2 separate regions of the Homo sapiens genome follow, and region 2 is linked to region 1. Evidence: fine-mapped expression QTL. A gene starts in region 1. The other region holds a variant in brackets. All regions are shown on one strand. Distances are from middle to middle.

Region 1 (16,016 bases):
TCGAGACCAGCCTGGCCAACATGGCGAAACCCCGTCTCTACTAAAAATACAAAAATCAGCCTAGTGTGGTAGTGGGCGCCTGTAATCCCAGCTACTAAGGAGGCTGAGGCAGGAGAGTCGCTTGAACCCAGGAGGCAGAGGTTGCAGTAAGCCAAGATCGTGCCACTGCACTCCAGCCTGGGTGACAGGGCGAGACTCTGTCTCAAGAAAAAACAAAAAAAAAAAGAGAGAGAAAGTGTTAACAGAAAGAGGAAGTGGCTAGTAATGTTGAATACTTCTGAGAGGATGAGAAAGACAAGAGTGACCACTGAATCTGCAAAATAAGCATCATTAATGCCCTTTGAAACAAGCAGTTTTAGTGGAGTGATGAGGATAGAGACATGATTGAAGTGGGTTGAAGAGAGAATGGGAGGTATTAAATATAGTATCCTAGACTTGTTCAAGGAGTTTTGCTATACAGGGAAGCGGAGAAACGGGGCAGTATCTGGAGGTAGGAATTTCGGAGATATTAAGAAATGTATAGAGGCCGGGTGCAGTGGCTTACGCCTGTAATCCCAGCACTTTGGGAGGCCGAGGCTGGTGGATCATGAGGTCAAGAGATCGAGACCATCCTGGCCAACATGGTTAAACCCTGTCTCTACTAAAAATACAAAAAAATTAGCTGGGCGTGGTGGCGCGCGCCTGTAATCCCAGCTACTCAGGAGGCTGAGGCAGGAGAATCGCTTGAACCTGGGAGGTGGAGGTTGCAGTGAGCCGAGATCTCACCATGGCACTCCAGCCTGGCGACAGAGTGAGACTCCATCTGCCCCACCCCCCCAAAAAAAAAATGTGTAGAAAGACATTTCATATGTCTTGTGTTTTATCCATCATCACCAGTTGTCTTTTGTCTTTGTTTATAATGTATTTTGCCATTAAAGAGGTTGAACTAGGTTGGGCATGGTGGCTCATGCCTGTAATCCCAGCATTTTGGGAGGCCGAGGTGGGAGGATCACTTGAGGTCACGAGTTTGAGACCAGCCTGCCCAACATGACGAAACCCCATCTGTACTAAAAATACAAAAATTAGCCGGGCATGGTGATGGACACCTATAATCCCAGCAACATGGGAGGCTGAGGCAGGAGAATCACTTGAACCCAGGAGGTGAAGGTTGCAGTGAGCCAAGATTGTGCCACTGCACTCCAGCCTGGGTGACACAGCGAGACACCATCTCAAAAAAAAAAGAGAGAGATTGAGTTTCTTTTTTTTTTTTTTAATGTAGTCAACTTTATTCTCCTTAAACCACAAAATAGAGTCTTTGGTTGTACAAACATCACTAGTTACAGTCTCGACCAGGTCTCTGCTGGGGTGGGGCAGTTAGTCAGAGGCCAGAACTCCTGCAGGGTCTCTTTAAAATGCTAACACTCAGGTTAAAAGACTCGGGGCAAGGGTGGTGCTGGAGCTGGCAGAGCCCCCACCTCAAGTCTGGGGGACCTGCCTGCTCCTCTAGGAGGGCACAGGGCCCAGGCCACAGGGCCCAGGCCACAGCGCCCAGGCCTTACGAGGCGGCGGCTGCTACACAGCGCCACATCTTCAGGGCCCACAGCCCCGGGAGATTGAACTTTTTATCACTTTCTTTTATGATTTCCGGATTTCCTGTCTTGCCTAAAGACCTTCCCCATTTGGAGATTAAACAAATATTTTTATTTCCTTCTAATATTTGTCTTTTTAAAATTTTTATTTTATTTTTGTATAGGATGTGAGGGAAAAAACTTTTTACTTTGATTTCTTCCAGGCGTATAAGTCAACTGTGCCAATGCCAATATATTTTATTAAATAATCAATTCATTTACCACTGAACTGAGTGGTAAATGAATTTTTGAGACAGGATCTTGCTCTATCACCCCGGCTGAAGTACAGTGATGCGATTTTGGCTCGCTGCAACCTCCACCTCCTGGGCTCAAGCGAGCCTCCCGCCTCAGCTTCCGGAGTAGTTGGGACTACAGGCACGCACCATCATGACTGGCTAATTTTTTTTTTTTTTTTTTGAGATGGACTCTCACTGTGTCACCCAGGCTGGAGTACAGTGGTAAGATTTTGGCTCACTGCAAGCTCCACCTCCCGCGTTCACGCCAGTCTCCTGCCTCAGCCTCCCAAGTAGCTGGGACTACAGGCGCCCGCCACCACGCCCAGCTATTTCTTTTTGTATTTTTTAGTAGAGAAGGGGTTTCACCGTGTTAGCCAGGATGGTCTCAATCTCCTGACCTTGTGATCCGCCCGCCTTGGCCTCCCAAAGTGCTGGGATTACAGGGGTAAGCCACCGCGCCCAGCCACGACTGGCTAATTTTTGTATTTTTTGTAGAGATGGCAGTTTCACCATGTTGCCCAGGCTGGTCTCGAACTCCTGGACTCAAGCAATCCGCCTGCCTTGGCCTCCCAAAGTGCTGGGATTACAGGCGAGAGCCAATGTGCCCAGCTGACAAAGGTTTTTAAAGGCAAAATGAGGAGGCTCACATAATTGTTTTGAAATATTAATAATTATCCTTTGCTACAATAATCAATAAAGACAATGCCAGTTGGAGGTTTGACAGACAGTTGTTGGGCAGATGTCCTTGTAGATGTAATTTTTGTGTAAGGTCGTGAACAGCATTTGTGCAAGGTTGCAGTTTTTGCATTTTTTTTGTTTGTTTAATTTCAACGTTTATTTTAGATTCAGGGGGTACATGAACAGGTTTGTTACATTGGTATACTGTGTGATGCTGAGGTTTGGGGTACAAATTATGCCGTCACTAGGTAGTGAGCATAGCACCCAATGAGTACTTTTTCAGCCCGTCCCTCCTCTTTCTTTCCCCTCAAATAGGCCCCAGTGTCTATTGTTCCTATTGTCATGTCCATATATACCCGATGCTTAGCTCTCACTTATAAGTGAGAACATGCAAAGATAAAGAAAAAATTTGGCTGCAATATAGTAGGCAAAATTCATTTGCAAGGAGATCAGAAAGCCATTTGATTATAGCCTAATCCAAATAGATTTATCATTTAGTTTAATAATTTAACGAGGGGGAAGGGAATATTTCAAAAACGTTTAATGTTTATTTCTCATAGAATTAAAAAAAAAATTTATTTATGGCCGGGCGCGGTGGCTCACGCCTGTAATGCCAGCACTTTGGGAGGCCAAGGCAGATGGATTACCTGAGGCTAGGGGTTCGAGACTAGCCTGGCCAACATAGTGAAACCCCGTCTCTACTAAAAATACAAAAATTAGCTAGGCATAGTGGGCGCCTGTAATGCCAGATACTCGGGGGGCTAAGGCAGGAGAATTGCCTGAACCCGGGAGGCAGAGGTTGCAGTGAGCTGAGATCACGTCATCACACTTCAGCCTGGGCAATAAGACCAAAACTCAGTCTCAAAAAAAAAAAAATTATTTCCATAGGTTTTTGGGGTACAGGTGGTGTTTGGTTACATGAGTAAGTTCTTTAGTGGTGATTTGTGAGATTTTGGTGCACCCATCACCTGAGCAGTATACACTGAACCTAATTTGTAGTTTTTTTTATCCCTCACCACCCCCACCCACCCTTTCCCCTAAGTCCCCATTTTGCATTCTTTTGTCATAGCTTTTGTTATCAAGTATTTATGCATGAGAACCTGTTTCTTCATAGCCCTCCCTGGTTCTGTTTGTCAGGGTTTTCTTTTGTTTTGTTTTTGTCTTTTTGTTTGTTTTGGGGTTTTTTTTTTTTTTTTGAGACGGAGTCTCGCTCTGTTGCCCAGGCTAGAGTGCAGTGGCATGACCTCAGCTTACTGCAGCCTCCGCCTCCCAGGTTCAAGCGATTCCCCTGCTTCAGCCCCCTGAGTAGCTGGGATTACAGGTGAGCACCACTATGTCTGGCTAATGTTTTGTATTTTTAGTAGAATGGAGTTTCACCATGTTGGCCAGGCTGGTCTTGAACTCCTGACCTCAAGTGATCCACCCACCTCAGCTCCCAAAGTGCTGGGATTACAGGCGTGAGCCACTGCGCTTGGCCCTGTTTTTCTTTTTTAACACGAGTGTCTCCATCTTGATTCTGACAACTTTCACATATTGTTACTTAATAAATCTTATAATTTTTTTCATACAGGTTATGTACCTTTCTTGTTAATTTCTGTTTCTGTTCTTTTTACTGTCATCAGTGGGCTTCCCTATTATTTTCATTTCTAGCTAGATTTCTAGTTATAGACTGAAATTAATTTATTTTATAATCACACTACCAGATTGACTTCTTAGTTCAATACATGTCTAGTTGCATCTTATGGATTTCCTAGAAACACAATCATATTATCTGCAAATAAAGATAAGTTTCTCATCTATGTATACAGATTGTTCCTTGTTTTTGGTTAATTACACTAGCTAAATTCTTCAAATATAATACTGAATATTTTTAGCGATAATGTAAGTACTGTCTTTTGTTTTAATGACAATGGCTGCAATATTTCATATTTAATATGCTTTTTAAATGATTTTTGAAAAATAGTGTCCATTATGGTTATTTCTATTACTATTTTACTTAGAATGTTTTGTAGGAATAGCTACTAAAAAACAATTGCTTTTTTTTTTTTACATCTCCTCTTGATAGAATTACGTTTTTTCCCTGATGATATAACACATCCTGTTAGTAAATTTCCTGATACTGAACTATTCTTTCATTCCCAGAGTAAATTCTTCATGGTCATAATTTATTATTTTATTAACTCATTGTGGAATTCTCTTTTGCAAATATTTTATTTAGACTCTTTGTCTGCGTATTCATAAATTGGGTTATAATCTTTTTCTTTTTATGGTTAACACTGAAAAAGGCTTTAAATTATTCTCAAAGTGCTCACATGCCTGGGCAAAATTATTGCTATTATTAACAACGCACTGAGGATTGTGAACGATTTATTTCAAAGTAATAATTAGATGGGATTCAAAGTTTCCCATATAACAATGTCATTTCCCTTTATCTGAATCATTATTCTAGACTTTATTTAATGCTTTACTGCAGAGGAAAGAAAGGGGGGATGTGGCTTACTTTGTTGGGGATTGTGGAAAATGGGCACAGTCCTGGAAAAACCCACATTAAGTGTGCAATGCTTGTGAAAATGCCTAATGCAAGAGATTGCAAAATGTTGTCCCAGGGTACCAGGATTCTTGATGGAATAAGAAATATTAAAATAATTGGATAAACTGAGCTAGCAAAATGCAGGTGGCTGATAAATTTTAGAACAAAAGTGTAATTAAATGAGAAGCTTTGAGCTATACTCTATCTCATAAGTAGCATAATATTTCATTTGACTCTCTCTCTCTCTCTTTCTTTTTTATTTTTATGAGACATAGTCTCGCTGTGTTGCCCAGGCTAGAGTGCAGCGGCATGATCTCGGCTCACTGCAACCTCCGCCTCCGCGGTTCAAGCAATTCTCGTGCCCCAGCTGCCCAAGTAGCCAGGGTTAGAAGGCGTTCACCACCATGCTCGGCTAATTTTTGTATTTTTAGTGGAGACAGTGTTTAGCCATGTTGGTCAGGCTGGCCTCAACCTCCTAGCCTGAAGTGATCTGCCCACCTCGGCCTCCCAAAGTGCTGGCATTACAGGCATGAGCCACCACATCCAACCTCATTTGACTCTCCTGACAGTCTGGGAAGTTTAAGCAGGGAACCCAGCTGCAACTATCTAATGAATAATGGACAGTTTAGCATCTTAACTAATAAGGAATCTTGGGCTTAAGATATTCCCAACTTTATTACTGGGTTGTGACTAAGTTTCCTCTCCCACTTCCCCCCAACAAAAGGCTATATATACTCTATTAGCTTTTATATTTAAATGAAGGCAGATTGATTTTTTTTAAAAGACATTGAAGACACCCCTCAAACAAATGGAAGCACTCTGGGTTTTGGTAAAGCTGGTGTTAATCATATCTTTAGCTTCTTAACAAGGGGAAGAAATTACTTGTGGGCACTTTGGGTTTTTTTGTGCCATCAGTAATCCCCAGGGGAAAATGATACGTATATGTTTTTCCACAATCAGTTCAGGATACCAGGATATTAATGGTATACCTAAATCAACATACCAACAAACTAGCTAATGAGGTATTAATAGTATACCTATTAATAGGTAAACAGAAGTAAAATCATGTACCAACAAAACAAAGCAGTGATTGTTTAGAGAGGTGAATGGGATTTGTGCTAATTTGTAAAGTGTACTACCTTAGGCAAGCACTAGAAACAAATATTGAACACCTTAATATTTAGTTGTATATCAACTTACAGTTTACAAAGTTTTCCATACACAGGATCTCATTTGATTATTATAAAATCCCTAGGAATTAAGCAGGGCAGATATCATTATCTCAGTTGTTTACAAGTACATAAACAAGCTTACCAAAGTCAGGTAACTGTCCTGGGGATCACACAGCTAGAGAGTGGCTGGGATGTTTTAAAATTCAGATCTTGGTGAAGACAGATTCTGCGTTTTAACTCATGTAAAAGCAGAGACTGGCAGAGTTTACAACGTAGTATAATCTCACTGATTATTTGCTGAAGGTATGAATGTGTCTTGTGAGGCTATTTCAGAGTTCTTTCTAGTATACTATATAAGCCCACCCCAAAAAAACAAACTAAACAACTGAAGCCAAGTATGGAAGGTTGGGGATGGGATAAGGGGCAGGAATTATTCCCAGGAGGACTAGGAAATTCTAGACAAGGCAGCAGCTTCTGGAAATGTCAGTGTTTATTAAACATTTAAGGACATTTGGAGGTTTGAGAAGAAATATACAGAATGTAGAAAAATCCTAAGAATCCCCTGTGGCTGCAGTGCAGCCTCTTCCTCCCCCCCGCCCCCCCATTTCCCATTTGTTTTTCCTGCTTTTTGTTTGGTTGTTTAAAAACCATTTCTTAAGGCTCATTTGCCCCCTCCCCCACTCCCTGACCTATGAGGATCCATTCTCTCTCTCTGTCTCTCTCCTCAAGACCTGGAGTCCCAGAACAGTGCTCCAAAGTGGTCAGGGGGAACCAATGCTATACTGAAGTGTGAGGATCAGGGGCCCCTCTACTTGGGCTGGCTCTTCATTAAGGACTTAAGGGGGGCGTGAATTGCAAAAGCCACATGACGTCATTGGTCCTCAGTCATGGGTGTAAGGGCAGAGGATGAGCACAGGTAAACAAACAAAGAATGGATTAAAAAATAAAAAATAATAACCTAAATAAACCCTGAAGGAGAGTCTGATCTGGGTGCTCTGGGTATTAGCTGGGGGGACAGAGTATGGAGCTGGGCCACCTGGTAGAGGGGAGGGAGGGACGGGAGAGGAAACAGCCAGGGGGACAGGCTGGGGGATGCAGGAGATGGGAATGCCAGGTGGCCTGGACTTGAGGCAGAGGGTATCAAAGTCCCTTTCTTCTCAGTGCTCAGGTGGACAGGCACCAAACACACAGCCCCCGGGGCAGGTGAGGGGTAGGATTAGCTCCTGGGCTCCCAGAAAGCCAGGGGTGAAGGTGGGGGAGAATACAATTGCCTGGGGAATGAATTCTGGAATGAAACTTACATCTCAAAGGGAGGTGAGGGCAGGGCAGGGCGGGGGAGCAAAGAGGGAAAGCACCTAGACGGGGGTAAGAGGAGCCTAGGTCCCCCTGCTCTGGCAGGGCCTGGGGTGGGGGGGTGGCGATCACTTGTCCGAGTTCAGGCCCATCATGTTCTTGAGGGCGTTTTTGAGGCTGGTTCTGCTGGGGGACTTGACAGCAGGCCGGAGCTCCGGGCTCTGCTCATCCTTTCGTAGCTCCATCTCGATGACCATCACCTTTGGGCCTTTGGCGGACTCCACCCCTAACCCCCGATCCCCCGCCCGGCCCGCTAACCGCTATTTCTTATCCTTGCGAGACTCCCCCAGCCCCTTGGCCTTCTTCTCACTGACAGCTTTGGTGCTTCTGCTGTGGTCCAGCATTGCATACAGCACTGGCGTCTGGGGGAGGGGCGCACACATCAGTCACCGAGCGACTGGGGCTTGACTGTTCCCATCCCACCCCTCACTGCTGCCCGGCGGCTCCCAGGGTTCTCCTTCCCATCTTGTCTAGGCCCCAAGTCCCGCTAACCTGCCGCCCGCGCTTCGACGCGTCCTTTCCTGGCTTGTGCAATTTCCCCTTCTCCATAGCACTGCAAGAAGAGAGACTGCTGTACGTTTGGCCTCGCCGGAACCCCTTGCACCGCGGACACAGCTTCCTCTTCCCCTTGGCCCTCCCACCCACTGGAGTAGTCTCCGCCCAGATGGGGGATAGTGGGGAGAGGGGGAGGGGAGCTAGGCTCCGCCCCTTACCTGAGCCTCCTCTGCAGGGCCGCCTGCCTGCGTAGCCAGCAGTACCGAACCACGTAGAAAAGCAGCAGCAGCAACAGCACCACCCCGAGGACACCCCCGATCACAGCTCCCAGAACGACCCCGTACCTAGTTGGCACTAGGAGGGGTGGGAAAAGAAGTGGGAGAATGAGCAGGGCCCTGTATCTGTGGTTCCTAGTCCGAGTGTATGCCCTGCATTGAGGATGTAGGACTCCCAGCTAAAACTGCCTTCTGCCCACGCTCCCAGAGCCTGAATAAAGGTCCTTAGGCCGGGCTTTTTGCCTCTTCCCCCAACCTATCAGTCCTCCCTGATCCCCTCCCAAACTGCTTCCCATACCCTTGTCCCCATCCCTTCTCACACCTTTTTCAAAGACATACAGCGTGACCTGAGAGGTCTTGCCCACTATGTCTGGAGGGTTTTTGACGTCACAAGTGAACGTGCCATTGTCACTGTAGTCTAGGTTGTGTATGACAATGGAGCCATCCTTCCAGCGAGGGTCCCCTACCCACTGGATGCGCTCTTTGAAGGTCCCCACCTCGTCAATGTAGGGTTGTCCCTTGGCATAGTGGAAGATCTATGAGGAATGAGGGGAAGCATGTGAGAGGACCCTAATGAGAACACAGCTGTCAAAGCTTAGCTCCATAATTTGTTACAGAAAGAAAAAAGCAAAAAAAAAAAAAAAAAAAAAAAAGCTTCGCTCCAGCCTCAGGGTAAGGGATCTTGGGCTGGAAAGGGTAGTGCTGGAGAAGGGAGGACAATGTAGTCAGGGTGACAAAGACTGTCATTTACCTTGCCAAAGTTGGGGTTATGGCTCAAAAAGGATTTCCCCCTCCTTAGCCCAAGTTATCTTTTTTGTTGTTCTTTGAAGCACTTTCTGTTATCCAACCCCAGGATTCCCCCAGGCACTCACCGAAATGGCATCTCTGCCCCCTTCGGGCTGGTAGCGCCAGGTGAAGGAGATGTCATCTGAGACCCACTCACTGGACCAGAAGGAGCAGTGCAGGGTCACCCGGGAGCCCACAGCACCATGGACCTCCCTGTCGGTGTAAACCACGATGGCCTGGGCCGGGGACAGCACTGCAAGCACAAAGTGGGGAATCAGATGCACCTATGGGCCCAGTAAGGGATACAGAGGAAGTGAGATCAGTAGGAAATCAAGTGCTGAGTCACAGGTCAGAGGCCAATTTGGAAAAGAAACAACAAATTCTGAGCCCCAAGTCTCTGGGGACTAACTGAACAGATGAGCATAAATGCTGTGTCTGTCAAGCTCTTTAGCATGTCTGTAGAGAAGATGAAATCAGCAGTAACAGAATTCTCTTGAGGACTTCCAGAGATTGGGTTCTGTCTTTAAGTCTCACTTCTCCTTTGGGTCAGTATCTAACTTTTAAGCTATCCTTTAGATGCAGTGTTCTAAATTTTTAAAATTTATTATAAATTATACAGGTAATACATATTGTACTCTTCTTATAAACTATTCAAGCAATAGAAATAAAACAAAAGTCTCCTTTGACACTTAGCCCAACAAATTCCTTTCCTGTATTCCCTTCCAAGATGTAACAAGTTATCCATTTAATATGAATCAAACTCAGTATAAACTCAATAAACTCAAGATATACACATACTTACAACAAATAGTTTTGTGGAGTTTTTTTTTCCACATACATATTGCATTGTATTCTAGTGTCTTTTTGCTTAAGAACTTACGTATCTGGAGGAGCTTTCCCTGTTGATTCATAGATATCAATCTTATTTTAACAGCTGCATTGGATTTCACAATACAGCAAACTCAGATTTCTTGCAGAAAAAAATGAAGATAACTAGAAAATATAAGTCTTCTTCCCTGGCACAACTGTCCTCATTGCTGAATCCCTGGTTGCCATACAGCTTGCTCTTGACTGGAGAGTCAGGAAGGGAAGGGCCTCATACCCCTCTCAGCTGGGTGCAGAGCAACACCCCAAGCCTACAGCTCAGATGACCCTACATGTGAGCCCTCTATGGTTCAACTGTCCTCACCTTCCTCTTGGCCACTGTGGCCCAGTGCCATCCCCAAGACTTACCCACACAAGGAAGGTCATTCCAGAGAGACTATGTGTGTGGGCTGGCCCCAGGGAGGGGCAACTGTAGACCTTTTTGTTCTACAGGAGGGGGAGGTGGCAACCAAACAAAGTTCCATTGTCTGACCAACGCTGGGGGGCTCATGCCACCCCTACTCCCACCCCAACTGTCCTGAATCTCTCACCTCAGCATGCAATACCATGTACTTACCTTCTGGAACTTCCACCTTAGAACCTTCTTGGGAATCCCCCTTGTTTAACAAGGGAGATAATTCACTGGCTCTAACTTCTATTCCTCCTGTTACAATATCAACCATTGCCCTTCTCAGCTGTGCTCAATGGTTCTATGAGTGGAACAAGTGTTGAGACACAACTCTCCCTCTTCCTTATACATCAAGATTCCTTCCCCCTATTTCCCTCACTATGCCCTTCTCCAACTCTCTATCTTTAACATTTTCTCAGGGTACCCCCAAATAGCCCAGTACAACCCAGAAGAGTCTAGGGCTCAAGCAGCTGACAGCAGAGAACCCTGGGCATTCTGGCCAGCCCCCTTTCCCTTGATGTCCTCCCCACCACCCCCACTTGCCTATGGCTCACTCATTGCACTAGGATTCAGGGCAGTTCAGAGAAGGGAAGGGGCCATTCCAATAATCCTGCTTTGACCTCTTACTCACCCAACATCTGCCAGGGGGCAAGGAAAGGGCTGGTCAGCTTATGAAGGAAGACAGCTTTAGAGGGATAAGATCCCAGAATCTCATAGAACCTCACTCCATTCACCCACACAACAGGTGAGGAGCCATAGAGAGACAAAAAATCTGAGGAGCTGAGACCACAAACCTGGGCTCCTTACTTAGATCGCACTCTCTTTTTCCTTCTGGGAAACTAAGGTTAAGGCACCTCCTGCACTGCTAGGGGACGAGTGGGAACCAAACCCAGGTGTTTGAGCCTATTTCTTTATGTAATCTAACACTGCTTCCCACCAGGCTGTTAGCATGGCTCTGGGGGCATGCTACTATTTCCAACCTGGGTCCAGCCATGGCCACCACTCAGGGAAGCTTGCTACACTCTCTTTTACCCTTTCTTTTAAAATAAAACCTCTACTTCCTCCCTCTAAATGCATATTTTTTTCTTTTCATATATATATATATATATTTTTTTTTTTTTTGAATTTTACAGATGGAGTCTGGTTATGTTGTCCAGGCTGGTCTCCAACTCCTGGGGCTCAAATAATTATCCCACCTTGGCCTCCCAAAGTGCTGGGATTACAGGCATGAGCCACCATGCCCAGCCGCATATTTTTTCTTTCTGAATATAATGTCACCTTCCTGCTCCTGCTTGTTCTTTCTTTGGTTGCAGTGGGGAGTGCAGCAAAGGCTGTGGGGATTGCTGAGAGACACCTGAGTCCCAAGACTCCCAGAGTAGAGTGGCTCCACTTACCCAAAGAAGAGAAGAGCAGCACAGCCAGGATAGGGCTGGGGCTGGATGAGGGAGCCCCAGGAGCCATAGCTGGGGCAGGGGCAGGGGCCCGGAGCATCTGTGGGGTTGAGAAAGTGGGGGACCAGGAACTGAACGGGGGGTTCCTGGAACCTGCTTAAAATCCCCTAGGGCCCCAGCATGAGGGGGCTGTCCTCAGCCAGTAACCAATTGCAGCCTGGCATGTGCAGTTGAGAGGTGGTGGGGAGGGGGGCAGAGTGCAGGGAGCAGAAGGGGCATTGTATAGTCTGGGTGGAGGGGTGGGGGGACACATACCACCCCATACACAGAGGGCTTTGTGTCCACTGGCCTCCCCCTGCCCCAGGCTGGAATGTTGTGGGGGGTGGTGAGGGAGAGGGACAAAAACAGGGACACAGACACACTTCTCTGAGGGATAGATATGGAACCTCAATTTAAAGGCCATAAAAAGGGATTTCTCCTCAGCCTCCTTGCCTGAGAGAGGCTGCCTCACAGCCCTAGGAACTAGAGGGAGGTTTCCCCCAGAGAACTCTGAAAATAGGATATCCCCTGTTATCTCCTCTAATGTGGGCTGCATTACAGACTTCTTGAGATGACCAAGTCCTATGGGAGTTTTTTTCCCCGCACCTCCCTTCATCCTGTGCGATTCTTCCCAGACAGAAGTTTTTCTCCACTGGACTATTTCCAGGCAAGAAGCCCCTGACCTTTCCGTTTGTCAAGAAGTCCTTCAGTGCTTCATGCTGCTGTTTAAGTCCATTTCAATTTATTTCAAGGCTACAAAATTGTATTAAGTGCCAGCAATATGTAAAGTATGAGAATGCAGGTAATAGAGAGAGGAATAAAAATTAAGTCCTTCCAGCAAGGAGTTGAAAATTTGGTTTGGGGAGGTGGAGATGGGAAGATCAGAGGACAAACCCATCAACAATCAAGTATAATAAGCCATGACACTTCCTTTAGTAATGAACAAAATGCTGGGAGTACAAAAGAGGGGCACACACAGCTGCAATATCAGGAAGACTAAGTTATATGAGAGATTAAAGACAAAATAAACTTTAATAAATGAAGTTTATGCCAGGCATAGTGGCTGACACCTGTAATCTCAGCACTTTGGTAGGCTTATGCAGGAGGATTGCTTGAGTTTAGGAGTTTGAGACCTGTCTGGGCAACATAGCAAGACCTCGCCTCTACCAAAATTTTTTAAAAAATCAGCTGGGCATGTTATCACATGCTTGTAGTCCCAGCTACTTGGGAGGCTGAGGCAGGAAGATCGCTTGAACCTGGGAAATCAAGGCTGCAGCGAGCTATGATTGTGCCACTGCTTTCCACCCTGGGCTACAGAATGAAACTCTGTCTCAAAAATAAATAAATAAATAAATAATCAAACAAATAAATAGTTCAGAGGGAAGAATAGTTGTGTCTAGGAGGCAATGTTAGATATGAATCAGCCTTGAAGGATGACTGTCATTTTGGAAAGGGAGATAGGGAGGGTTACCAGAAGATAGAACAGCAAAAGCAAGGACAAAGAGGTGAGACGGAGAGACAGAATGTGTGTGTGTGTGTGTGTGTGTGTGTGTGTGTGTGTGTGTGTGTGTGTGTGTATGTATATGAGATGTAGGTTTCTGAAGTGTTGGATATATTCAGGGCCGATCTTGTGCCATCCACTTTGACTTGATTTGGGGAAACTTGAAGTGGCATAGTCAGAAATGAGACTGGACAGGAAAGTCGAAACCAGTTTGTGAAAGGCCTTAAATGACAGGTGAAAGAAGGTGAATTCAATTTGGTACATCATGAGAACCTGAAGGTGTTGGGGTGGAGTTAGCCATGGGGATGTCTACATAACCAGAGCTGAGGTTTTTTTGTTTGTTGAGGCAGTCTCGCTCTGTTGCCCAGGCTGGAATGCAGTGGCATGATCATGGCTCACTGCAGCCTTGACCTCTGAGGCTCAAGCAATTGTCCTACCTCAGCTTTCCAAGTAGCTGGGAACTACAGGCGCATGCCAGCATGCTGGGCTAGTTTAAAATTTTTTTTTTTTTTTTTTCAGAGATAAGGTCTTGCTCTGTGGCCCAGGCTGTAGTGCAGTGGTGCAATGATAGCTCACTGCAGCCTCAACCTCCCAGGCTCAAGCGATCCTCCCACTTCAGCCTCCAGATTAGCTGAGCCACAGGCAGCCACCACCATACCCAGCTAATTTTTCAATTTTTTGTAGAGATGAGGATCTCACTGTGTTGCTCAGGTTGATCTTGAACTCCTATACTCAAGTGATCCTTCTGCCTTGGCTTCCCTAAGTACTGGGATTACAGGTGTGAGTCACCGTGCCTGACCTCTAGAAGTTAATGTAAGTGGGGTGGTCATTGTTATTCCTGCTATGAGACCACTGCAGGCTCACCCAGGTGAAGGACAGTGTCCTGGTACCTTCCTGGCATCTCATTAGACCACAGCCCTGGTGGGTATGGTCATTAGTATTAGATTTGGGTTGTGGAATTCTAAATATGGGATTGCTTATGAAGTCCATAGGCAAAACCATCATCATTGACAAATGTTTACAGGATGTTGTAGTCAACATTTCTATAAAACAGCAATTCAAAGTACAAAAAAAAAAAAACCCCCAAAACTCTCCCCTCCAAAATTTCCACCTAACTCCACCTCCCAACTGTAAGCAATCATTTCCTCTTTATCTAACCACCCCTTTTATCAACACCCTCTTCAATGGGTTGTTGCTACTTTCTTTGTTGCATGTCTTTATTGATCCTGCTAAGGCTATAACCTTCTTGGGGACAGTACAAACATCTGTATCTTTGAATCCCCTACAGAACTTTTCACGGACTGACAAAAAGTCCATAACTACATGCTAAATGAAATTATTAATATTTAAAGAGCTGAGTGGGCTGGGAGTGGTAGCTCGCACCTATAATCCCAGGACTTTGGGAGGCCGAGGCCGGTGGATCACTTGAGGTCAGGAGTTCTAGACCAGCCTAGCCAACATGGTGAAATTCCATCTCTACTAAAAATACAGAAAATTAGCCGGGCATGGTGGTGCAGGCCTGTAATCCCAGCTACTTGGGGGGAGGCTGAGGCAGGAGAATCGCTTGAACCTGGGAGGCAGAGGCTGCAGTGAGCTGAGATAGCGCCACTGCACTCCAACCTGGGCGACAGAGTGAGACTACGTCTCAAAATAAAAGAAAAAGAAAAAGAAAAAGAAAAACCAAAAAAGATCTGAGTGAAAAAGGCATTCCTTGGGTTTGTTAACGTGAAGCTCCAGAGAGCCAAGTCAATGACTGGAATTTCGATAGCACAAAACTGTATTTAAATATAATAACTAACGAATAAGTTGTTCATTAAATAAAACTTGTTGTTTGAGGTACCCATCATTGAATATGGGGGGGTAGAGTCTTGAAGATCAGCTGTTATGGGTGTTGCAGAGGAGATCCCTGCATAGATAGTAGATTGGATTAGAGAGCCTCTTTCAATCCTAAAGTGTACGAATGTGCTTTGTCAAGCATTATAGAAATGCAAAGTAGTATTATTCATCTGATGCAGAAATAAGTGAATTTGTGCTATTTAAATCCTGAAGTGCAGGGATGCTAAATATACATAAGATCTGAATATTAATATAATTGAGTATTTTTTTTGTAGAAATAGGAGTTGCTCTAGCCTGTCCCTTTTACTCCTCTCCACCCTACTCCCCACAAGAGTCAAGAACTTTTGTGCTCTGTTCCCTTCCTTTATCATTTGCTCTTCTTCTTTCTTCAGTCTTGAGTGCTCGGCAGTTGATTCCTGTGCTTGGGTTCCCTAAAACTGTATATATATATATACACATATATAAATCAAAGCGTGTTCTTCCCCTCACTCCGGGTTCTTCTAGCTGTGGGTGTCACCCACATAGCGCTGAAACAACGAACAAGGGAGCATTGTCCTCGGCTAGTGGGCGCCTGGTCCATGTGGCAGCTCAAACCCAGGAATTGTGGGGTCTAATCGAGGTGGTTAGATGAGGCTCCTCGTTTTCGGGAATGGTGGTCCGCAAGGTCTTCTCGAGGCCCCTCTACACACTCCCCAACTTAGGTCACAATTTATGTATCTGTCTGGTTAAAGCTTCGTATTAGAAAGGGAGGGAACCCAAAGTATCTTTTCTCTTCGGGGTCTCAACCGGCCAACCACCACGTTTTTAGGCCGACCTGGGAGGCAGGGGGAACGCAACAGACTGC
Region 2 (13,982 bases), 100 kb after region 1:
AATAACATATCATTCATGATAGAACAAAATCATAACATGTCTAAGAACAAGACACAGAATAAATGCACATAACCTTTGTATTGAGAAACACTTAAAATTATTCAAGGGCAAGTTGAGAACTAATTAAGTGAAGAGATTTACCTTATTTATAAATGAGGTGATTTAGTATTATAAAGATGTGAATTTCCTCCATGTTCTCCTGCAAGACCCATGCGATATCAATATATCAACAGAATGGCTTATATAACTTGACAACTGATTGTAAAATTTATATGAATGCATAAGTCCATGGATAATCAACGGAATTTTGACAAAAGAAAATAAGGAGACTCATTGTAACTGATAACTGGGGGAGGGGGGAAGTGTTTGCTCGAGTCCACGATGCCAGCTCCAGACACCTCCCATGGAGGAGTCCAGTGAGCTGCCACTGGATGCCAAGTCCAAGGTCACCAACTAGCTTGTAGATTTTCTTTTCTTTTCTTTTTTTTGAGATGGAGTTTTGCTCTTTGTTGCCTGGGCTGGAGTGCAGTGGCACTGTAGCAGGACCAGCTGCAGACAAAACTCCTCAGACACCGGATTAAAGAAGGAAGTGGTTTATTTGGCCGGGAGCGTCGGCCGACTTGCGTCTTAAGAGACGAACTCCCCGGAAAAGAAATTCTTGGCCTTTTTAAAGGCTTAAAACTTTAAGGGGTCCACATGAAAGGGTCGTGATAAATCGAGCAAATGTGGGAAACGTGACTGGGGGCTACATGCATCAGCTAACAGAACAGAAAGTTTTACAGTGCTTTTTTCATACAGTGTCTGGAATTTACAGATAACACAAGTAGTTTAGGTCAGAGGTTGATGTTATTATTATTACTTTTTTTAACTCCTAGGGCTGGGTGGTGGTGTCAAGGTTGTCTGGCTATTTATCTTTTTTTTTTTTTTTCCAACTTTTTGCTTTCTCTCTTTTCTCCTGTCTTGTGAACTAGGCAAGATGGGGGGGAGGCAGCAGGAGTAGTAGTGGTCTCCTTCCTTATCCCCCACTTTGAGAATTTTCACTAATTAGTGGGAGTTCTCACTTTTATTTTTACCTTTTGAGTCTTTTTGCAAGACAGAGTGATAATGTTTTATGTAATACACTCGTGTTGAAGTTTTCTGACAAACCATGGTAGTTACAAAACCTTTTATCGTTTGAAAGAGCAAGCGTAATACACAGGGGAGCAGCAAGCAAGTTGCTATTACTAGTAATGCACTTACAGTGAGGGTTTTAAATTTTTTGTAGCTGGAAACTATTTTCTAAATAAAGACCTAGGATCAAACCTGTGTTAAACCTGTATATGCACATGTATCAACTTTGTCATGTCCTAAGCAGGTTAGTTTATTAACTGGGTCTTAAAAGCTTTTTCCTAGAGAATAACACAGTATTTTTTAATAATAGAAGATTTTAAGAGCCAGACACTTGAACTTGTGGCGTCTCTTTGGGGAAAGAGCTAGTTGAAGTTATCTTCGAGGCATTAACTCTTTTGCTTCTCAAGGCCATTGGTCTCTTATGTTAGCCTTTTTTTAAACATAACATGAAGAAACATCTAGGCTGCCAGCAATGTTTTCAGCCAGCTGAGCAAATAGGTTTTTTCCTTTTTTGCTAAAGGAGGAGGTTCTGGTAACTTCTGGTTTATATGTTTAAAGAATGACTGAAAGACTTGGAATTGTTGCTGGGCTGGATGGGTCTGGGTTTCCTAAGTAGTATGTGTACAGTGGGGACACCTTATATAGATGTTTCTTCTAGCATGGTTATGGGGGGGGTAGCAACAACAAAACAATGTACAGCATATTCATATCCAGCAAGGACAAAAGAGGTCCTTACTGGGAAAAAGGTTGAATACAGTGACAGAACAATAGGAAAACAATATTACAGGAAAACTATTAGTCTTAAGATTTTTAACTACATTTACTTGCTTGATGAGTCCTCAAGCTTCGGCTGTGCATAGACTAGTCAGCTGCCGGTGTGTGACTAGAGCAGGGCTTGTTGTCTCCTCAAGGTTCAGCCATGCGCAGACTGGTCAGCCTCTGGAGTGACCAGAGCACGGCTGTCATCCTCAGCAGCAGTTTGGTCTCATCTCAGGATCATCAGGGTTGGATAATCTGCATCCTGCTGGCTGCTACTTGTCTTGAGCTGCTGGTGTTAGCCAACTGTGGTGGATCCAAGACACCACACCTGCAACTTTAACAGCAGTGGGAGTGGACAAGGTTACAGTATAGGGCCCATGCTATATGGATCCTAGAAAAATTAGATTTTGCTTTAAACAGAGTCACTAGATTTAAAGGGGTGTCTGGCTTATAGGCATTTTCATTTATTTAATTATGAACACTTTGTATGGCTATTTTTAAAGCCTGCATTTGCTTTCTTAAGGTTAATTCCTCTTCTTCTGCGAGAAAACAACAAATGGCGGATGACACCGGTGCAGCGGGTGGGGGGGGGGGGGGCCCGGAGGCCCTGGTGGCCCTGGGATAGGGAACCGTGGTGGCTTCCACGGAGGTTTTGGCAGTGGCATCCAGAACCGGGGTCGCGGCCATGGACGGGGCTGGGGCCAAGGCCCTGGAGATCGCGGAGGCAAGGCCAAGGATAAGGAGTGGATGCCTGTCACAAAGCTGGGCCGCTTTGTCAAGGACATGAAGATCAAGTCCCTGGAGGAGATCTATGTCTTCTCCCTGCCCATTAAGCAAGGTGTGGTGGTCATGGCTAGGCCAAAGCTGGACAAAGCAAAAGGAAACCTGAGTGGAAAGCCACATCTCACCAAACAAGAGGAAAAAGGCAAATATGAAGAAACGATTGAGATGCAGAAATATGGAATCAGAGATCATTGACTCTTTCCTGGGGGCCTCTCTCAAGGATGAGGTTTTGAAGATTATGCCAGTGCAGAAGCAGACCCGTGTCGGCCAGCGCACCAGGTTCAAGGCGTTTGTTGCTATCGGGGACTACAATGGCCACGTTGGTCTGGGTGTTAAGTGCTCCAAGGAGGTGGCCACCGCCACCCGTGGGGCCATCATCCTGGCCAAGCTCTCCATTGTCCCCGTGCGCAGAGGCTACTGGGGTAACAAGATCAGCAAGCCCCACACCGTCCCTTGCAAGGTGACAGGCCGCAGCGGCTCCGTGCTGGTGCACCTTATGCCTGCACCCAGGGGCACTGGCATCGTCTCCGCACCTGTGCCCAAGAAGCTGCTCATGATGGCTGGTATCGATGACTGCTACACCTCAGCCCAGGGCTGCACTGCCACCCTGGGCAACTTCTCCAAGGCCACCTTTGATGCCATTTCTAAGACCTACAGCTACCTGACCCCTGACCTCTGGAAGGAGACTGTATTTACCAAGTCTCCCTATCAGGAATTCACTGACCACCTCATCAAGACCCACACCAGAGTCTCCGTGCAGCGGACCCAGGCTCCAGCTGTGGCTACAACATAGAGTTTTTATACAAGAAAAATAAAGTGAATTAAGCATTAAAAAAAGGTTAATTCCTTTAGTTTCTGGAGGTCACCTTTAATTTGACCTATGATTTAGGGGTGGCCGACCGAACAAAATCTTATACGGCAAATACCTAGTTTGTTTGTTGGGGGTGCACCTGACTCGGAGGAGGACCGTAGGCAAAAACCTGATTTTATCTTAAATGAATTTCCTGGCAATATTTTTTTCAGTAGCTGCTCGAGTGTCCAGTTCATGTGTTCCACCTTTTCTTGAAGTTTGTGGCCGATAGGCTGTGTGTAACTTCCATTTTATTTTTAACAGTCTTGTTAAATCTTGCACTATTTCAGCTACAAATGCTGGCCTATTGTCTAACTTTAAAGTTAGAGGTAGTCTAAACCTGGGGATAATGTCTTTTAACAGTACTCTAGTCACTTCTTGTACTTTTTCTGTCCTGGTGGGGAAAACTTTAACTTACCCTGAAAAGGTGCAAAGAAGCACTAGCATGTACCGATAGCCTCCAGCACGGGGCAGTTCTGTAAAGTCCATGAGCAAGTTTTCACAAGGTATGGCTCTTTGTCCTGTTTAAGTTTCTTAGAGGAGGGTTTCTTCCCCCCACCCGGCCTTTGTAACTTTATCTAGTGGCTTAGCCTTCAGTGAGAAGCTGGAATACAGATACGGCAGAATCTTGCTGCTTTTAACTTCTAATGTGACCATGGGCTCCTGGGAGCCTAATGAGAAGGTGCCTAGTCTGCCCTAGTCTTTACATTCTTCAGCTCCTGTCAGCCTGATCAGATCAGTATTTGGTTCCTCCAAGGTGCAGCTGCCCTTGGCCGATGGCCTCTTTGTCTTGCGGCCTTGGCCATTTCCTTTATTGCCTTCTGAACATTTACCCTTCTAGTGTCCTTTCTTTTTGCATCTCATACATTATTCTCTCTCTAGCCTTGTCTGGCTCTTGAATACTTGCCTAACTTGACTTCTTTCTTGTCTACATCCACGTCCATGTCCTCTCACATTGCTAATTTTTTTTATAAGAGCTGTTGCTAACATATTGGCTTTTTCTTCTTAAGTCTTTAATTTACTTTTTTTTTTTTTTTTTTTCTGAGTTCTCCTGCTCCTACAGCCAGCTGGTGGGGCCGGGCAATGGCACGGGCCCTGCCCCCACGCACTGCTGTCTGTCTCTCCTGTTTCCTTCTGATTCTCTTTTTCACACTTAGTCTTTCTTTTTCTTTTGCTCTTTCCCAGTTTTGTTCCTTGGTCACAGTTAACGTACACCTTGGTGGCCACTTTTATAGACTAGGTGGTATTCATGCCTGCAGCTTCTGCTTGCTGTTACCGTAGGCTTGCTTTACAAATGAAGTATTCACTATATACTGATTTTCAGCAGCCTCAGGGTTAAATGGGGTGTAAAGCCAGAATGCTGTATAGAGTCTCTTATAAAACTGACTTAGGCTCTTGCCAGCTCCTTAAAGCATTCCTGAAATCTTTTTTATATTACTTGCTTTTTTCTACCAACTCTTAACCTCTGCAGAAGTGCTTCTCAGTACCTCTGCAAACACTGAAGCTGAGTTGCATTCTCTGGGCCTTTTTTCCCCTTTTTCCTGGAGTTTAACAGGCCCTTTTCTTTATATAATTTTTCATGCACTTGGAGGGTTAAACAGGCATACTGAGAGTCAGTGTAAATGTTTACAGTCTTACCTTCACTGAGTTCTAAGACCCGAATTAAAGCAATGAGCTCAGCTTAACAACAGTGTCCAGGGTTACCACTGCATATTCTGCATATCTCTCTCCTTGTGGGTTGATGAAGCTGTATAGCTCCCAGTCTACTGATGCCCAAGGCTGGTCCCGGAGGTCAGGTCTGCTAGAGTAAACTTGAGTCCAACACCTCTGCACTGTTATGCTCGACAGGGCTCTAGCTGCTGGGAGCAAGGTGGCAGGTTCAGGGTGTTTCCAGTTTAGTAGATCAATGGTTGAAAAGGGCTGATAGATGAAAGTCTGTTGCCCCCCAAGATGTGGGCCTGGTCATTATAATAGACAGGTCCTGGTGTCTTCCTGAGAGGCATTTGCATAGCTCCAGCAAGACCAGATCTGAGACGGCCCACTTGACTATCTTGACCTTCTTCCTTGGCCTCTCGAGGCTCCAATCCTCCCCTTCGAGGTGAGACCTGGGGCCTGTTAGCTCCTGAATCTCATTTCTGAGGGGGCTGTTGGCTTCAGTAAAGGTGGGTAGGCTGGGATATGTGGAGAAATAATTTCTATTATCTTTGGTGGCTCCTGCAAAACTGGCTTCTTTTGCTGTTTCTGGGACTCCCTTTTTAACTCTGACTGCTGGCGAAGCTGCTCTTACTTTTACTTTTGGCTTTTTTGCAATAAGCTGTTAAACAGGGCTAAATTTATGCTGGTTTTGTCTATATTATATTTAACCATGAGTCAATATAAAGGAATTTAATCTAGGTACACTGGCTGTCCTCTGACCCCTGTCACCACCTTAAATACATGGCCAATTGTTCCCTGTCTATAGTTCCTTCGGTGGGCCATCCAACACCAAAAGAGGGCAATTCTAATTCACACAGAGTTCCTAACCTCTAGGGGGTTAACTTAACTCTGTAATCTCCTGTGAAACCTTTCTTAAGGTTCTGTAACATACATTTTAATAGAGTAAGTTTTGATGATTTGATGACTATCCTTTTATTTTTCTTTTTGAAAATTTTTTACACAGTTCCTAGCGGAGTGGGCTTACTTTGTGTCTGACCTATTTTTCTCTTGAGACAAAACAACATTCACACTACAAGAAGGAAAGGGTAAAAGGTCACTCACTTGTCTAATTCACACTAAATCAAAATCGAAACGAAAACCAAAGTGTTGTTAAAGGCACACCTGTTCATCAAGCAATTTAAGCCAAGTCAAAATCAGAACCAAAACCAAAGTGCCAATAAAGGCATGCCTGTTTATCAAGCAATTCAAGTCAAATCAAAATCAAAACTAAAACCAAAGAGTCAAGCAATTCAAGTCAAGTCAAAAACAAAAACCAAAGTGCTGGTACAGGCACGCCATGGGTGATCAGGCCATGCTTCCACTCAAATGGAGTGGGCAAGATCCAAAGACCAGTCTTACCAAGTTTTAGATGTCTGGACTTAAAGTGCCAGTTCCTTCCCGGTGTTCAGCTACTGCATTGATCCTCTGCGGGGGCCTGCTGTGCACTGCTCTGACAAGGCATTCCACCAGGACAAATGCCTACCTGGGAGCGCTCTCAGGATCTGCATGGCTCAAGCTGGCCAGAGTCCCCCGCAGGGATGCTCTACAGGGCAGACCTAAGCTGCCTAAGGGGCTGCCTTGGCCTTCCATTAATCCCCTCACTTCCTGGTCAGGGAACCAAGAAATGCAGCAGGACGAGCCACAGACAAAACTCCTCAGACACCGGATTAAAGAAGGAAGTGGTTTATTCTGCCGGGAGCATCAGCCGACTTGCGCCTTAAGAGCTGAGCTCCCCGAAAAAGAAATTATTGGCCTTTTTAAAGGCTTACAACTTTAAGGGGTCCACATGAAAGGGTCGTGATAAATTGAGCAAGCGTGGGAAACGTGACTGGGGGCTACATGCATCAGCTAACAGAACAAAAAGTTTTACAGTGCTTTTTTCATACAGTGTCTGGAATTTATAGATAACACAAGTAGTTTAGGTCAGGGGTTGATGTTATTATTATAACTTTTTTTAACTCCTAGGGCCAGGTGGTGGTGTCAAGATTGTCTGGCTATTTATCTCACTTTTGTTTTTTTTCCAACTTTTGGCTTTCTCTCTTTCCTCCTGTCTTGTGAACTAGGCAAGGTGGGGGGAGGAGGGCAGCAGGAGTAGTAGTGGTCTCCTTCCTTAGCACGTTCTCAGCTCCTGGGTTCAAGGCACCTGGCACAAAATGCAGTTTCTTATGTCTACTTCTTTCTACATAGACACAGTAACAGTCTGATCTCTCTTTCTTTCCCCCACAAGCTCAAGTGATCCACCCACCCTCTCAAAGTGCTGGGATTGCAGCTGTGAGCTAATGAGCCTGGCCGCTATTATCTTTTTTTTGTCTGAATTTTTAAAATTATTTTTAAAAATGGAAAAACAGCTGGATGTGGTGGCGCACATCTGTAATCCAGCACTTTGGGAGGCCGAGCTGGGCGGATCACCTGAGGTCAGGAGTTCGAGACCAGCCTGGCCAACATGGTGAAACCCCATCTCTACTAAAAATACAAAAATTAGCGGGGTGTGGTGGTGGGCACCTGTAATCTCAGCTACTCAGGAGGCTGAAGCAGGAGAGTCCCTTGAACCTGGGAGGCAGAGGTTGCAGTGAGCCGAGATCATGCCACTGCACTCCAGCCTGGGCAACAAAGAGTGAAACTCCATCTCAAAAAAAAGAAAAAAAACAAAAGTGCAATTTTTCATTCAATAAATACTTCATTCTTATGCGGTTTTGTTGCAGAAAGTGAAGTCCATGACTTTAGAATGATAGTAATTTATCAACCAAATAATCCATTTCACATAGTTTCAATAACTGCAGCAATCTCCTTGAATTGTCTGCATAAATTCTGAAACTGTGGAATTGTCATTTCAAAGGACTTGTTCTTTACTTGGACTGAATGAGTGGCACTTTTAGCATCACTGCAACATAAGGATACTTAAGAGATCTGCAACTGTCACATCTCACAGCCAAACCCAGTTTCCATTGAAAATCTACAAGCTCAGCCAGGCGTGGTGGCTCATGTCTGTAATCCCAGCATTTTTGGAGGCCGAGGCGAGTGGATCACAAGGTCAGGAGATGGAGACCATCCTGGCTAACACGGCGAAACCCCCTCTCTACTAAAAACACAAAAAAATTAGCCAGGTATGGTGGCGGGTGCCTGTAGTCCCAGCTACTCAGGAGGCTGAAGCAGGAGAATGGCATGAACCTGGGAGGCAGAGCTTGCAGTGAGCCAAGATCACGCCACTGCACTCCAACCTGGGCGATAGAGCGAGACTGT[C/CA]AAAAAAAAAAAAAGAAAAAAATCTACAAGCTCTGACCAGGCGCGGTGGCTCACGCCTGTAATCACAGCACTTTGGGAGGCTGAGGTGGGTGGATCACCTGAGATCAGGAGTTTACACCAACCTGACCAACATGGTGAAACCCCGTCTCTACTAAAAATACAAAATTAGCCAGGCATGGTGGCGCATATGTGTAGTCCCAGCTACTCGGGAAGCTGAGGCAGGAGAATCGCTTGAACCCAGGAGGCAGAGGTTGCAGTGAGCCGAGATTGCGCCGCTGCACTCCAGTCTGGGCGACAGAGTGAGACTCCGTCTCAAAAAAAACCAAAAAAACTGCATTTTGTTCTGTACTAAGAAAAACTCTTCTGCCTGCCTTGAGATGCTGTTAATCTGTAACCCTAGCCCCAACCCTGTGCCCCAGAGACATGTGCTGTGTTGACTCCAGGTTTTTTTTTTTTTTGAGACAGAGTCTCACTCTGTCTCCCAGGCTGGAGTGCAGTGGCGCCATCTCCGCTCACTGCAAGCTCCGCCTCTGGGGTTCACCACATTCTCCTGCCTCAGCCTCCCGAGTAGCTGGGACTACAGGCACCCGCCACAACACCCGGCTAATTTTTTGTATTTTTAGTAGAGACAGGGTTTCACCGTGTTAGCCAGGATGGTCTCCATCTCCTGACCTCGTGATCCGCCCACCTTGGCCTCCCAAAGTGCTGGGATTACAGGCGTGAGCCACAGCGCCTGGCCATTGACTCAAGGTTTAATGGATTTAGGGCTGTGCAGGATGTGCTTTGTTAAAAAAAGTGTTTGAACGCAGTATGCTTGGTAAAAGTCATTGCCATTCTCTACTCGCGAGTACCCAGGGACACATATACTGCGGAAGGCTGCAGGGACCTCTGCCCAGGAAAGCCAGATATTGTCCAAGGTTTCTCCCCATCTGATAGCCTGAGATATGGCCTCATGGGAAGGGAAAGACCTGACTGTCCCCCAGCCCCACACCCTTAAAGGGTCTGTGATGAGGAGGATTACTGAAAGAGGAAGGCCTCTTTGCAGTTGAGATAAGAGGAAGGCATCTGTCTCCTGCTCATCCTTGGGAATGGAATGTCTCGGTGTAAGACCCGACTGTACGTTCTATTTACTGAGATAGGAGAAAACCGCCTTGGGGCTGGAGGTGAGACATGCTGGTGGCAATACTGCTCTTTAATGCACCGAGATGTTTGTGTACATGCACATCAAGGCACAGCACCTTTCCTCAAACTTATTTATGACACAGAGACCTTTGCTCATATGTTTTCCTGCTGACCCTCTCCCCACTATTACCGTATTGTCCTGCCACATCCCCCTCTCCGAGATGGTAGAGATAGTGATCAATAAATACTGAGGGAACTCAGAGACCAGTGCCAGTGCGGGTCCTCTGTATGCTGAGCGCCAGTCCCCTGGGCCCACTGTTCTTTCTCTATACTTTGTCTCTGTGTCTTATTTCTTTTCTCAGTCTCTTGTCCCACCTGAGGAGAAATACCCACAGGTGTGGAGGGGCTAGCCCCCTTCAGAACTCAGGTGTTTGAAACCAGCCTGGGCAACAAACATGGCGATACCCTCATCTCTATTAAAAAAAAAAAAAAGACAATAGCCATAGTAAATTTTAAAAACTGTGTAGCACTGACACAAGAATAAATAAGTACCCAATGGAACAGAATACAGAATCCAGAAACAGACCTGAGTGTGAACAGAAATTTCATATATGATATAATATTTGAATTAATGAGTTGTTTAGCGGATAATCTTGAGAAAACTGACTTACAGTATGTTGGGAAAATAAAATTGGATTATAACTCACACAGTTACCACTTTCCAATAGATTAGATATCAAAAAGTCAAAGATGAAACCATGAAGCTAATAGACAAAAATTCAGAATAACGTTTTTGTTACCTTGGGGTGGGAAAGAATTTTTAAAATAGAAGATCGTAAAACCATACAGCATAGAGGGAAAATAAATGGATGAATCTGAGCAACTCGATATGAAAGACTTCAATGAGGCACATCATGGACGAAGAGATAATAACAAGGAGAAGATATGATATCTAAAACAAGGGATTTATAATTAGATTCTAGAAGATACAAGGAACTTCTGAAATTAGAAAGAAAAGAAAATACCCAACAGGAAACCTAACATAAAAAAATGGGTAAAGAATGTGAATAGTCCAACTTAAGAAGGGGAAAGCTAAGTAGCTAAAAATATGAAGAATGATGAACCTCACTAGTAATCAGAGAAATGGAAATAAATTAAAATGGCGAGATACCAATTTATATCTTTGGTAAACATTAGAAAGTCATGTCTTGGGTAACATATAGGCAAATGAGAGGCCGGGCACAGTGACTCGTGCATGTAATCCAAGCACTTTGGGAGTCTGAGGCGGGTGGATCGCCTGAGGTCAGGAGTTTGAGACCCGCTTGATGAATATGGTGAAATCCCATCTCTACTAGAAATACAACAATTAGCTGGGCATGGTGGTCCATGCCTGTAATCCCACATACTCGGGAGGCTGAGGCAGGAGAGTCGCTTGAACCTGGGAGGCAGAGGCTGCAGTGAGCTGAGATCATGCCATTGCATTCCAGCCTAGGTGACAGAGTGAGACTCTGTCTAAAAAAAAAAAAAAAAATAGAATAGAATAAAATAAAATAAAACATAGGCAAATGGGAAGTCTCATGTCCTGCTGATGGGAATTAAACAGGTATAGCACGTTGGGAAGCAACCTGGAAGTATTTAAGTAACTGTATGCTTTAAGACTCAGCAATCCTTCTAACTCTATATCTAAGAGAAACTAGCACCTAGGTCTATAAGGAGACATGTATCAGAATATTCATGACAGGACTGTGTGTGATGGTGAGAATTGGAGGCAGTCCAGATGTCCATCACTAATGCATAGATTTACTTAGGCTTGGTTTACTGATGCAAAAGAGAGAGAATAAAAATACACTGTTTTCACAAAAACAGTGAAAAGGGAGTAGGAAATAGCATAAAATTCATAGCAGAAACCCATTTTTGCAAATATACAATATTGCATTTTGTTAAATAAACACACTCTCACATACACAAACACTGATACCTTTTATATCTCCAGATTCATTTTTTTTTTTTTTTTTGAGGTGGAGTCTCTGTCACCCAGGCTGGAGTACAGTGGCACAATCTTGGCTCACTGCAACCTCCCCCTCCTGAGTTCAAGCGATACTCCCACCTCAGCCTCCTGAGTAGTTGGGATTACAGGCACTTGCCTTCATGCCTGGCTAATTTTTTTGTATTTTTGTAGAGACGGGGTTTCACGATGTTGGCCAAGCTGGTCTTGAACTCCTGACCTCAGGTGATCCACCTGCCTGGGCCTCCCAAAGTGCTGGGATTACAGGCATGAGCCACCGTGCCTGGCCTAATATTTTTAGAAATAATATGTATATTTAAAAAACAGACTAAATATACAAAACTGGGTGCATTGTAGGGGAGAGGAATTGGTGTAAGAATGGGAGATGAGGAGAAAATAATGAGACAATATAACAGAACAGGGATCTTACCCAATCAATGATTATAATGAGCAATAGGGCTGGGCGGGGTGGCTCATGCCTGTAATCCCAGCACTTTGGGAGGCTGAGAAGGGTGGATCTCTTGAGGTCAGGAGTTTGAGACCAGCCTGGCCAACGTGGAAAAATCCTGTCTCTACTAAAAATACAAAAATTAGCCAGGCATGACGGCGCATGCCTGTAGTCCCCACTACTCAGGAGGCCGAGGCAGGAGAATCGCTTGAACCTGGGAAGCAGAGGTTGCAGTGAACCAAGATCATGCCCTTGCACTCCAGCTTGAGTGACAGAGTGAGACTCCATCTCAAAATAAATAAATAATACATAAATAAATAAAGTGCAATAAACTGAGGGAGATGATTGAATCAATTTTGTGTGCCCGTGAGTGATAAGAGGGAAAAAAAGTGAAAGTATACAATACCTTTTGGGAGAAATAGAAGAGGACTGACTGGGGTGAAGATATTCACAACATAATATCAAAACTACTCCTACAAATCCATGAGACAAAGACAACTCAAGAAAAACATGTATTTTGGCCGGGCATGGTGGCTCACCCTTGTAATCCCAGCACTTTGGGAGGCCAAGGCGAGTGGATCACTTGAGGTCAGGAGTTCGAGACCAGGCTGGCCAACGCGGTGAAACCCCATCTCTACTAAAAAATACAAAAGTTAGCTGGGCGTGGTGGCTCATGCTTGTAGTCCCAGCTACTCAGGAGTTTGAGGCAGGAGAATCATTTGAACCCGGGAGGCGAAGGTTGCAGTGAGCCGAGATTGTGCCCCTGCACTCCAGCCTGGGCGACAGAGTGAGAATCCTTCTCAAAAAAAAAAAAGAAAAGAAAAAGAGAAAAATATGCTTTTTTGGCTGGGCGTGGTGGCTCACGCCTGTAATCCCAGCACTTTGGAAGGCAGAGGCGGGCGGATCATGAGGTCAGGAGATCGAGACCATCCTGGCTAACATGGTGAAACCCCGTCTCTACTAAAAATACAAAAAATTAGCCGGGTGTGGTGGTGGGCACCTGTAGTCCCAGCTACTCTGGAGGCTGAGGCAGGAGAATGGCGTGAACCCGGGAGGCGGAGCTTGCAGTAAGCCAAGATGGCGCCACTGCACTCTAGCCTGGGTGACAGAGCGAGACTCTGTCTCAAAAAAAAAAAAAAGCTTTATATATATATATAAAAAAGCTTTTATGTATATAAATATATTTTATATATATAATTTTATATTATATATAAAAATATATTTTTTATATATAAAAAAGCTTTATATATATATATATATATATATATATATATATATATATATATATATAAAGCTTTTTTTTTTGAGACAGAGTCTCACTCTGTCACCCAGGCTGGGTGTATATATATGTATATTCTCTCTCTCTCTCTCTCTCTCTCTCTCTCTCTCTCTCTATATATATATATATATATATATATATATTTTTTTTTTTTTTTTTTTTTTTTTTTTTTTTTTAGACAGTCTCACTCTGTCGCCCAGGCTGGAGTGCAGTGGCATGATATTGGCTCACTGCAACCTCCACTTCTGAGGTTCAAGTGATTCTCCTGCTTCAGCCTCCTGAATAGCTGGGATTACAGGCACAAGACACCATGCCCAGCTAATTTTTGTACTTTTAGTAGAGATGAAGTTTCACCATGTTTCACCATGTTGGCCAGGCTGGTCTTGAACTTCTGACCTTAAATGATCTGCCCACCTCGGCCTCCCAAAGTGCTGGGATTACAGGTGTGAGCCACCAGCCTGGCCTCTAGTTATTTTTTACATAATGTTCAGCATACAATAAAAATTAGGAGACATGTGAAGAGAAAGGAAAATGTGACCAATGGTCAAGAGAAAAAAGAAAACAGTAGAAGCAGAAACAAATATAAGCCAATTGTTTAAGTTCACAGGCAAGAACTTTAAAATAATCACAATTTTATTTTTAAAAAATAGAGGAAAAGATGGAAAGTAGATGAGAAGAATTTCAACAGAGA

Evidence for each region.
Region 2: its variant is fine-mapped to the expression of MPZ in whole blood (INTERVAL, PIP above 0.99).

The regions. Positions count from the first base shown.
Region 1 is chr1:161,298,040-161,314,055 of GRCh38, forward strand. MPZ (myelin protein zero) reads right to left here and starts at 11,929. Exons shown (of 6, transcript NM_000530.8): 1 at 11,800-11,929; 2 at 9,219-9,385; 3 at 8,669-8,882; 4 at 8,290-8,425; 5 at 8,069-8,129; 6 at 6,696-7,938. The coding sequence starts at 11,866. The coding sequence ends at 7,837. RefSeq lists an enhancer at 15,918-16,016.
Region 2 is chr1:161,403,643-161,417,624 of GRCh38, forward strand. It overlaps the pseudogene LOC148430 and the pseudogene COMMD6P1. Among named protein-coding and RNA genes, the nearest start is that of TRV-CAC1-1, 11 kb to the left of the region's middle. The variant C/CA (reference allele first, on the strand shown) is at 8,438.